3 linked regions of the Homo sapiens genome follow. The protein of the gene in region 3 interacts with the protein of the main gene of each other region in a pairwise test. Each region holds a gene or a part of one and is shown on either strand. Other genes may lie near its edges. The genes, in order: PLXDC1, MVP and NRF1.

What was found.
Region 1: the proteins of NRF1 (region 3) and PLXDC1 interact in a two-hybrid assay, tested with the Homo sapiens proteins (one large-scale study listed by BioGRID).
Region 2: the proteins of NRF1 (region 3) and MVP interact in binary tests that used the Homo sapiens proteins (3 or more experiments, as listed by UniProt).

What each region holds. Positions count from the first base shown.
Region 1 is NC_000017.11:39,141,548-39,145,197, reverse strand, and holds part of PLXDC1 (plexin domain-containing protein 1 precursor), read left to right. Parts: intron 1-3,650. UniProt on the Homo sapiens protein: Plays a critical role in endothelial cell capillary morphogenesis.
Region 2 is NC_000016.10:29,844,454-29,848,203, reverse strand, and holds the end of MVP (major vault protein), read right to left. Parts: intron 3,712-3,750; coding exon 3,325-3,711; intron 2,342-3,324; coding exon 2,225-2,341; intron 2,047-2,224; coding exon 1,920-2,046; intron 1,008-1,919; coding exon 819-1,007; intron 443-818; coding exon 215-442; 3' UTR 183-214; downstream 1-182. UniProt on the Homo sapiens protein: Required for normal vault structure. Vaults are multi-subunit structures that may act as scaffolds for proteins involved in signal transduction. Vaults may also play a role in nucleo-cytoplasmic transport.
Region 3 is NC_000007.14:129,618,081-129,621,730, forward strand, and holds part of NRF1 (nuclear respiratory factor 1), read left to right. Parts: intron 1-3,650. UniProt on the Homo sapiens protein: Transcription factor that activates the expression of the EIF2S1 (EIF2-alpha) gene. Links the transcriptional modulation of key metabolic genes to cellular growth and development.

The sequences.
Region 1 (3,650 bases), on a different chromosome or scaffold from region 3:
TCCAAGAACCTAGCCCACATGCCAGCCCCACCCCGGGGCTGCCCCTGCACCCTGGGAAACAGTGGGGATTGTCGGTCACTTTTTACTGCACTTTCTGTGGTTCTGAGTAGGCTCTGGAGCCAGCCTGCCTGAGTTCAGATCCTGCCATGGACTGGTTCTGTGACCTTGGGAGGTTCCTTAACGTCTTTGTGCCTCAGTTTCTCCATTTGTAAAATGGATTTTAAACTAGTAACTATTTCATGGGATTATTGTGGGGATTAAGGGGGTGGATGTGTTTAAAGCCCCTGGAATAGTGCTAGCACAGAGCAGCATTCTCTGAAAGTCAGCTATCATTTTTATTACTAGGGTGATTATTATGGCATCCCACTGGACTGCACACTACTTGGGGCCATGAGTGAGTGAATCAATGAATGAACAGCTTGTGTTCCGGAAGCTCCTTGGCAACACATGCAGGCGGGGAACGGGTCCAGGGAAAATGGAGCTCTCTCCAGTGGAAGGCAGGTGGGGTGAGGAGTGGCTGAGGGTTGGGCAGGTGTCCAACTTGTGTGTGAGCACATACGGGAAGGCCGAGGCTTTCAGGAAAGTCTTTGTGGGCATGTGCACAGGCACGTGGGCCCCTGCACATACACGTGAGCAACCAGCTGTGTTGGCTTCTTTCATGAGTCGTGGGGATGACGTCCTGTCCCAGGCAACAGGGAAGGAAGGGTGGCCAGGAAACAGATGTAGTATGGGTTGGAAGAGTAAGATTCAGGGCTAGGCCAGGGTAGGCCAGGGTCCTGGTCAAGCTCCCTCTCCATCCCTCGCCCTGCCCTCTTTCATGGACTCTTTACCTCTTACCCTGGCCTGAGCTCTCTATAAAACCTCATTTGTGTTTCTCACTTGACGCTTATGGCAGCCTGTACTGTGGGCACCATCGTCAAATCCATTTGAGTCACTAGGGAGCTGAGGATTAGAGAGGAAAACTGATGGGGCTAAGGTCCCATAACTTGTGAGTGGCAAGACTGGGTGTGGAGGTCAACCCAGTGTCTCTTCCCTGGCCACCCCCAGCTGGGCCCCCTCCCTGTCCTTCCCCGGGCTGCAGGCCTCCACCATCCCGCCTCCTGTCTCGGCTCCAGGTTTGTGAATCCTGAAGATCCCCAACACTCCTCTCTGGGCCGCTGAGCCCCTCCACTTGTTCACTACCCGCTCTATCCTGTTCTGGCTCCTGCCCAGGCCCCAGGGCTGCTTGCAGGAAGACCTGGGGAGCTGGGCAGACCAGCCCAGCACAAACAGCTCTGTCTCCAGAAGCAGCTGTGGGCCCCACCCAAGAGAGACCAGACAGCCCTGGCTTGGGCCTGGGCAGTGGGCAGGCTGCCTTCCCAGCCCTGGACTCATGTCCATCTGTGGGCAGCCAGTGGGCATCTTGGGGAAGGGGTCTGGGGACTGCCCTCCTCCCCACGTGCTCCAGCAGCATCTGGTTGCTATTAGGGGCAGAGAAGTGAGAGGGGGCCGGCAAGGGTCCAGTAGGCGCCAGCAGCCAAGAATGACTTAATTGGATACAATGTCTAATGACAAAGCAGGGCCCCACAGCGGAGTTCTGGCCTCAGCCCCAGGCCTGGGCCTGGCCAAGCCTGGTCTCAACCTCTGTCCTTGCTGGCTCCCAGGAGCTACCCTATGCACTGCGTCCTCAATTCTGCAGTGATGGAGCACCTGCTGTTTGCTGGACATGCCAAATTTGAAGAAGGTGGAGAGAATCCTGGGGGAACTCAAATCTACCAGGGAGATAGGCACATAGTCGCACACGTAGGTGCTCTAGGAGAGGGAGAGCCACATCCAGGAGCTCTGGGGAGTGGGCTGGGGGAAGGCAGAGGTTGAGACAGGTATCTGACACAGGGTGGGCCTGAAATGGAAGAGGGTCATAGGTGGGGAATGTCAGATCCACCTATCTGATGGTCTGTTCTCATATATACATCCATAGTAGGTGTGACCATTAGAATGACAATAAAAGCCACAGCTTTGGGGGGCATAAATCTTTTTGAAGTGGAAAAGGATGGTTTTTGTGTTGTTTATTTATTTATTTGGAGAAGGAGTTTCGCTTTTTTGTCCAGGCTGGAGTACAGTGGCGCAATCTCGGCTCACTGCAACCTCTGCCTCCCAGGTTCAAGCAATTCTCCTGCCTCAGCCTCCCGAGTAGCTGGGATTATGGGTGCCCGCCACCATGCCCGGCTAATTTTTGTATTTTTAGTAGAGACGGGGTTTCGTCATGTTGGCCAGGCTGGTCTCGAATTCCTGACCTCAGGTGATCCACCCACCTCAGCCTCCCAAAGTGCTAGGATTATAGGTGTGAGCCACCACGCCCGGCCTTTTGTTAGAACTAATTTAACAGACCTGGTGCAGTGGCTCACGCTTATAATCCCACCACTTTGGGAGGCCAAGGTGGAAGGACCGCTAGAGCCCAGGAGTTCAAGGCCAGTGTAGGCAACATGGTGAAACCCAGCCTCTACGAAAAATACAAAATAAAATAATAATAACTAGCCGGGTGTGGTGGCATGCAACTGTAGTACCAGCTACTCAGAAGGCTGAGGTGGGAGGATTGCTTGAGCCTGAGAGGTCAAGCGTACAGTGAGCTGTGATTGTGCCACTGCACTCCAGCCTGCATGCTAGAGTGAGACCCTGTCTCAAAAAAAGCATGCATTTAACAACCTAGAGGGAACTGGAGAGGAGATCATGGAACCTAAAGCCATTTCGCAACCTCCAGAAATGGAGGTTCGCATGGCCGCGAAATGGCCTGTGTGTAGTCACTTTCCAATCCTGTGCCCATGGCAGACATTGCTTATTGATCTTCACAGTCCTTCCTGCTAAATACAAGAGGAGCCTTTGCATTCTCAGTTGGAGTGCCTCTGGCTGTCACGAATGGATTGCAGATGGCATGTGATATGAAACCTATTTGCCATCCTAGACAGTATCTAGGTAGTGATAGGAGTAAAACAGTAAAAAATTACCCCTCCCTCAATGGGGCAAGGGGGGGTTAATTTTATTCCCCAGGGGATATTTGGCAATGTTTGGAGACGTTTTTCATTGTCACAGCTTGGGATGGGGAGGAGCGTGGTGCTACTGGCATTTAGTGAGCAGGGGCCAAGGCTGCGGCTGCTAAACATCTTACAGAGCACTGGACAGTTCCCGCATAACAATGAATTATCCAGTCCAACCAACAATCCAATTTAAAAACAGGAAAAAGACTTAAATAGACATTTCTCCAAAGAAGATATACAAATGGCCCACAAGCATATGAAAAGATGTTCGGCATCACTAATCATCAGGGAAATGCCAATTTATAAAAACGATGAGATATAACCTCATACCTGTTAGGATGGCTACTATAAAAAAAACAGAAAATAACAAGTATTGGCAAGAATGTGGAGAGATTGGAACCCATGTGCACGGTTGGTGGGAATGTAAAATGGTCCAGTCATTTTACATGGAAAACATTTTATATGGAAAACAGTATGACAATTCCTCAAAAAATTAGAAATAGAATTACCATACAATCCAGCAATTCCGCTTCTGGGTATATACCCAAAAGAATTGAAGGCCAGGTCTCAAAGAGATATTTGTACACCCATGTTTGTAGCAGCATTGTTCACAATAGCTAAAACGTGGAAGCAAAACAG
Region 2 (3,750 bases), on a different chromosome or scaffold from region 3:
ACCTGGGAGGTGGAGGTTACAGTGAGCAGAGATCACACCACTGCACTCCAGCCTGGGTGACAGAGCAAGACTCCAGCTCGAAAAAAAAAAAAAAGATGCCAGGGGCACCTCCCCTCCCCACCATTAAGCTCCCTGGTAACCCCAACCAATGTCAGACAAGAGAAAAGTGTTGAAATTGTAAATGCCCAGAAACTTCCATTGTATTAATCAGGAGTTAGCGCAGTACAGGCACCACGTGGTTGTCTCCAGGAGCTTGAGGGGCCTGAGCAGACTGGGGGGATATCCCCTCCCCAGGGCTGGGCCCACTGGCCACCCTTCTGCCCAGGGGCTGACCCTCGGGCCCCATCCCCAGCAGCCCAAAGGCTGTGTTGAAGAGGTTGATGGGAGTGGAGCCATCGGTGATGAGGGTTGATTTCAGGCCCAGGGACTGGAGCAGTTTTACCTGGAGGGTGAGAACAGGAGGAAGTTGAGATGGGCGTCAAACCCTGGCCACTTCAGAGTGACCCTCCTTAAGTCAGCTGGTTTGAAGGGTCACCTCCCCTGCATCTGACCACCCTGCTTGACTGCCTTGGAAATGCCTGTCAGACTGGCGTCCCATCCATTTCCTGTCTCCTCCGGAGCTCTGGCTCACTGCTGGGTCTAGTACAGTGCCTGACGTTGATGCAGCGTGACACTGTGTGAATGTCCCTGCATCGTGGGTCAGGTCACTCACCCCTCCCTTCCCCACAATCTTTCCAGATGTTGTGTTTTCCGCCTTGGCTCTGCCTTCCTGGTTTCAAGGTTGGTCCTGAAACCAACACACCTTCCCCAACTCTCACCTGCATCTCAGGCCCAGCCACAGCAAGGTCCCTGATGGTGCTGGGGCCTATGGCCTCTGTCATCTGCTTGAACTTCTTCACCTCCACCTCAGCCAGCTGCTGAGCCTTGCTCACCTCCAGCTCCAGCTGGGCCCGGGCATAGACCAGTTCCAGCTCTCGGACCTTCTGGACCCTCTGGAGCTCAGCCTCCTGGAAGAGGAAAAATCAATCATTCTTTATTTTTTGACCCAGGCTGGAATGCAGATCAGGACTCACTGCAGCCTTGAACTCCTGGCTCAAAGGATCCTCCTGCCTCAGCCTCCTGGGTAGCTGGGACTACAGGCATGTGCCACCACACCCAGTCAATTAAAAAATTTTGTTTTTGTAGAGATGAGGTCTTGCTATGTTGCCCAGGCTAGTCTTGAACTGGTCTCGAACTGACCTCAAATGATCCTCCCATCTCAGCTTTCCAAAGTGCTGGGGTTAGAGACCTGAGGCACCACACTAGGCCTCTTTTTACATTTATTTTTATTTACTTTATTTTTGAGATGGAGTTTCACTCTTGTTGCCCAGGCTGGAGTGTAGTGGCACAACCTCAGCTCACCGCAGCCTCCACACCTCCTGGGTTCAAGCAATTCTCCTGCCTCAGCCTACCAAGTAGTTGGGGTTACAGACACATGCCACCATACCCAGCTAATTTTTTGTATTTTCAGTAGAGATGGGGTTTCACCATGTTGGCCAAGCTGGTCTTGAACTCCTGACCTCAGGTGATCCACCCGCCTCGGCCTCCCAAAGTGCTAGGATTACAGGCGTGAGCCACTGCACCCGGCCTCTTAATGGGATTTCAAGCATTAAATAAGATAATGCCTATGAAGCATACACAGCACTTGTGCCAAGGTGGCCAGTGCATGAGCGCCCAGCTGCAAAATGGGTGTTCTAATCCTTACCTTCCAGCAATGGAGTCAATGAATCCTACAAGGCAAAGGACTTTGCAAATGCAAAGTACTTGGATAGGGCTTTATGTTGGGGGACCTGGTGTCCTATACAGTCTCAGGGACTGTAGGGAATGGGCCTTTTCCAGGACTCAAGGCCACCCTCTTCTTAATGCCTCCCCCCACTCACCGTTTCAATGGCCAAGGCCTGTGCTTTTAGCTTGGCCTGCAGCACGGACCCTTCTCCCTCAATCCGGGCTGCCTCCGCACGGGACTCGGCCTCCGCCTTGGCAGTCCCGGTGCTCTCCACGGCCATGCTGGGGAGAAGGCAGAGTCAGGTAAGACCCGGGAGACAGCCCAGTCCCCCCACGGCCTTGGCTTATGCTGTAGCCGTGCACTGTCTCATCGACACCCCACCCAGGCCTGCTGCCCACACCAGCTGCTGTCCTAAGACCCTCGGCCCCTGCCAGTCTCCTCCTCTAGTTCTCAACCCACCTCAGAGCCTCCAGCTCCAAAAGTTCCTTGCGAGCTTTCTCGGCTTCTGACTGGTCCAGGATCTTCTGCCGCTCAAGCCGGCCGCGGGCTTCCTGCTCCAGTCTCTGAGCCTCATGCCTGGAGGAGACGGAGCGCAGGTGAGAGGCTGGCATGGGGCCAGAGCAGGAACAGGAGCGCCAAGGGCAGCGGCCACCAACCAAACCGGTGCCCAGGACAGACCCCAGCCCCTAGAAGGCACCCAATACGCAACTCAACCCAGAATGGTATACGCGCCACAAGCCAGTGTCATTCTAGGCCGGACAAATGCAGGCGTGACTGCGGCCCCCTACTTTCACGCCACTTGAGTGGGAAAAGAACAAGTATACAAGGAGGATTTCAGACAGTGACAAGTGTGGGAGAGACCAGGCAAAGAGGGTGCTATTCAGCTGTGAGAGAAAGAAAAGTGTTCCCCAAGGAGGGGATCTTTGGGCTGAAGCCAGAAGGAGAAGCCTGCCTGGAAGGGAGCTCAGGGGCGGGGGGAAGCTTTCTGGGCAGCAGGAATAGCCATTGCAAAAGGCCTTCAGGTGGGTCCAAGCTGTGCATTGAAGGAGCAGAGGAAGCCAGTGGGGCTGGAACATGTCAGCTGGAACATGTTCCAGGGACGAGGAGCATGGAAGGGGGAGGCTAGAAGGCAAATCGGGGGAGGCCGGCTGGAGCTGCAGGAAGGAGTTTAGGTTTTATCACATGCAAGATGGGAGGCTGCAGGAGCCACATCTGATACGTGCTTTTTTTTTTTTTTTTCTTTTGAGACAGGGTCAGTCTCCCAGGCCTGTTGCCCAGGCTGGAGTGCAGTGGCGCAATCATGGCTCACTGCAGCCTCAAACTCCTGGCTTCAAGTGATCTTCCTGCCTCAGCCTCTCACAGTGCTGGGATTACGGGCATGAGCCACCGCGCCCAGCCTGATTCACATTTTAAGTGGGTCACCTGATCTGTTGGGTAGGGAATAGATCTTTGAGGGTAGGGATGGCAGCAGGCAGTCCACAAGGGATGCCAGGTTATCCAGTTCCCAGCAGTGGCCTGCCATGGGCATTATAGGCAGCCGAGCTCCCAGCCTCACTTACTTGGCCGCCGCTTCCTGGGAGTTGGTGGTGATCTCGATGGCCAGCTGGACGCTGCGTTGCAGGGCGTCCCGGGTCCTCTGATCCACAGGCTCCACTGACTGCACGTCCACACTGCTGACCACCAGCCCGTTTTGGGGGAAGACAGCCTGGTCCCGGGGCCTGGGCAGGGCCATGCCATCGGGGCCCTTCGCTTCCGAGGTCTCAAAGCCAAAGACAGCAGTGCGAATGATGCGGGCTGAGTTCTTATGGAAGTCATCGAAAGTGACAGAGGCCACGGCCCCCCGCACCCGGGATGCGATGGCTTTGCAGGCATCACCTACAAAGTCTGGCACTGAAAAGAGCTTGGCCGTCTCTTGGGGGTCCTTCCGGTCATTCACCTCAAAGTGCCTGTGAACAAACAGGCCCAGAATGGGGAAGCTGCTTTCA
Region 3 (3,650 bases):
CTTGTGAGAGTATTGAATTGTGATGTAAAAGGACATCGATTCTGGGGATAATTTTTACTTCACAGTTGTCAGATTTGAGTGACAATTGAGTAAAGAGTTAAAGATTATAGTGTGGTTATTGGGTGATGATGATGCCTTTAAGATAGGGAATGTATAGGAAGAACAGAATTTGAGGAGGAAGGTAATAGAGTATGACTCCAGATGTGTTAAGATATCTGGGAATCAAGAAAGGTCAAGTAAGTACCTGGGTATTTGGGCTGGAGCTCAAGGGGACATTGGGATAAATTAGGGGATTTGCATTCATCAGTATAATGCCATATAGAAACTGCAGAAAGCCAGGCATGGTGCCTCACACCTGTAATCCTAACACTTTAGGAGGCCAAGGCAGAGGATCACTTAAGGCCAGGAGTTCAAAACCAGTCTGGGCAACGTTGTGAGACCCTGTTTCTACAAAAATTTAAAAAATTTGTCAGGTATAGTGGTAGCCACCTGTGGTCTCAGCTACTCGGGAGGCTGAGGCTGGAGTATGACTTGAGCCCAGGAGTTTGAGGCTGTAGCAAGCTATGATAGGGCCACTGCACTCCAGCTTGGGTGTCAGTGTAAGACCCTGTCTATAAAAAAGAAAGAGAAAATAGTACAGATTGAGTATCCTTTATCCAAAATGCTTAGGACCAGAAATGTTTTGGAGTTTTTTTTGACTTTGTAATGTTGGTATGCATATAATGAGATACCCTGGAGATAGGGCCCAAGTCTAAACTTGAAATTCATTTGTGTTTCATATACATCTTACAACCTGGATGCAGTTTTATACAATATTTTAAATAATTTTGTGCAGGAAACAAAGTTTTGATTCCATTCTGACTGCAACATGTCACCTGAGGTCAGGTGTGGAATTTTCCACTTGTGGCATCATGTCAACACTCAGAAAGTTTCAGATTTTGGAGCATTTCAGATTTTAAACTTTTGGATTAGGAATGCTTAACCATATCAGGAGTGAAGAAAAAAAACTAAGGGCAACCTTGAAGAGCATCTACATCTGAGGGTCAAGTAGAAGAATAGAAACCTATGAAGTAAGTTGAGAAAGAATGGCTAAACAGATAAGGTTATAGGGTTGAAGAAGCTGAAGAGAGGGATTAAGTGAATACTGACAGGGAAGTTAGCCGTGTGAAATACCACAGAGTTCATTGGTTTGGAGGGCAATGCCGGAGGATCGCTTGAACCCAGCACTTCAAGACCAGCCTGAGCAACATAGCAAGACCTCGTATCTATTAAAAAAAAAAAAATCATTGGGATAAAAACTGGACTTGGCATACGTGTATATATATATATATATATATATATATATATATATATACACACACACACACATATATATACACGTGTGTGTGTGTGTGTGTGTGTGTGTGTGTGTATATATATATATATATATATATGTATTGTTTTGCTGGGAACCATGATAGTTTAGACAGAATAGATTTCTAGAGCATTACTAAATTCAGGGGTAGGTCCTACAGAATCTAACTTAGTAGAAGACCCATGCTTAGAAATAGGTCCTGTTCTTCCATGTCTCTCTGCAATGGGAGTTGCAGCTTAAATGCTTTGGGAGATGACCCCCAATGACAAGGCTGCCTAAAAATCTCCATATTGTTTGGGTTGTTTTTTTTTTTTTTTGCCTCTTTTACATTGTCTTAAATTCTGAGAATTGGAGATTTCATTTGAGTTGACAGTGTCTTAAAATACAAATAACCTCTTGCAGAGTTTTGAGGTTTTATGATATTAATATGTTAAGTATGGGGGTTTTTAACCTGGGGTTTTCTGGTTCTGGGGTTTATATATTTTGGCTGTGTGACCCTGAATCCCTTAAAATTGTTTGAAAAGTTATGTGTGAGTGCATGTGTGATTTTTCTGGGGAGAGGGTCCACAACATTTATGAGATTTTTCAAGGGGGCTGTTGACACACAGAAAAGTCAAGGGCCTTTACTAAATGTTAATGATTAAATCAAGTGTTGGTTGTGTTCGTTGGCTGAAATCAGTTATCTCAACAAGTGAGACAGATCAAGGGAAAGAAATCTTGAGTAGGTGTCTCAGGTGAAGAACTTTGGAAAGATACGAGGAACTTCTTAGAAATGGGAGTAGGAGCACCAGAAGGAAGGTAGGAGGAATGCCAAAGCAAAGCTTAACCGATTTCAGAATTTTGTCAAGTCTCTGGATTGCTTGGTTTTTTTATACTCTAGGACTGACACTTAGTATATGTTTATTCATGCACTGTAGATACAGTAGGCTTTATGGGGTAGGGGAATCAAATCACTTTTTTTTTTTTTTTTTTGAGATAGAGTCTCGCTTTGTCACCCAGACTGGAGTGCAGTGGTATGATCTTGGCTGACTGCAACCTCCGCCTCCCGGGTTCAAGCGATTCTTCTGCCTCAGCCTCCCAAGCAGCTGGGATTACAGGCGCCTGCCACCATGCCCAGCTAATTTTTTATTTTTAGTAGAGATGGGATTTCACCATATTGGACAGGCTGGTCTTGAATTCCTGACCTTGTGATCCGCCCGCCTTGGCCTCCCAAAGTGCTGGGATTACAGGCATGAGCCACCGCACTGGGCCCAAATTACTATTGTTTTAAAGGGAAAGTGTTTTGAAAGAAAACAAATTGATAGATTGTGCTTGTTGGAAAAAAATTTTTCTACCAAGCTGGCTCATCTGTCAGAAAAAATTCATTTTTAAGTTAGGTGTTGCTTATGCTTTGGAAAAAATTTTAAATGCACAAATATTTCAGTCTAGTGATATGGGGCAAGACATTTATTTTCTCCTTGCAAATTTTTTCTGACCATGAAATGAAAATACCGTTGATGGTTTTTGTAGTGTCTTTCTGAAATATGACGATTATGGAATACTTTGAGATCCAGGATGATTTAATGCTAAGAAATTGCTGGCATTCACATTTCTAAAGTCGTGAATAAAATTAAGAAATTCAAGCACATTATGTGTTCACTAGATCTTACTTGATTTCCAAAATATTTCTTTTTGAAATTTTAGATAATTGGTAATTTTTACTTCCTTCTGCTAATCTTTGCATCTTTGAAATTAGATTAGGAGGCAGTTTTGTCAGCTAGGCCCTAGTTTCTGGGGCAGTGATATCCATACTTTTGCTTGCCACCCTCAAAATAAATTAATGCCACTTGGGATTAATTTGTGATTTTTCTGGGGAGAGGGTCTACAACTTTTATTTATTTTACCAGTAGTCTTGGTAAATACAAGAATGATATGAATAAATATGTTGGGTAATCTTAAACTTGTGTTATGTGATTTGTAATTAGCTTGTGTTTGTGGATGATCTTTACATTCAGTAAATCTCCAAAGAGGGCCCAGATAGAATGGAGTATTTTGTCTTTTCCTTTGGGAACTTTTTTTGGTTCTTTCTTTCATTAAACAATTATGAAATAAAATTTTTGGTAACAGATCTTCCATGTAAAAATAGCCCACAAATCAAAGAACTAGCCAAGATTTGCTAAGTAAGAACACATCATGGAATACCATCATAGAACTAGTCTCTTACCCCAAAACTAGCTGTAGGTGCTAAGTCTAAAGAAGAAGTAATTCTGATATGTTACCAGAATTATGTGGTAATGCGACTGAGTGTTAAAATTGT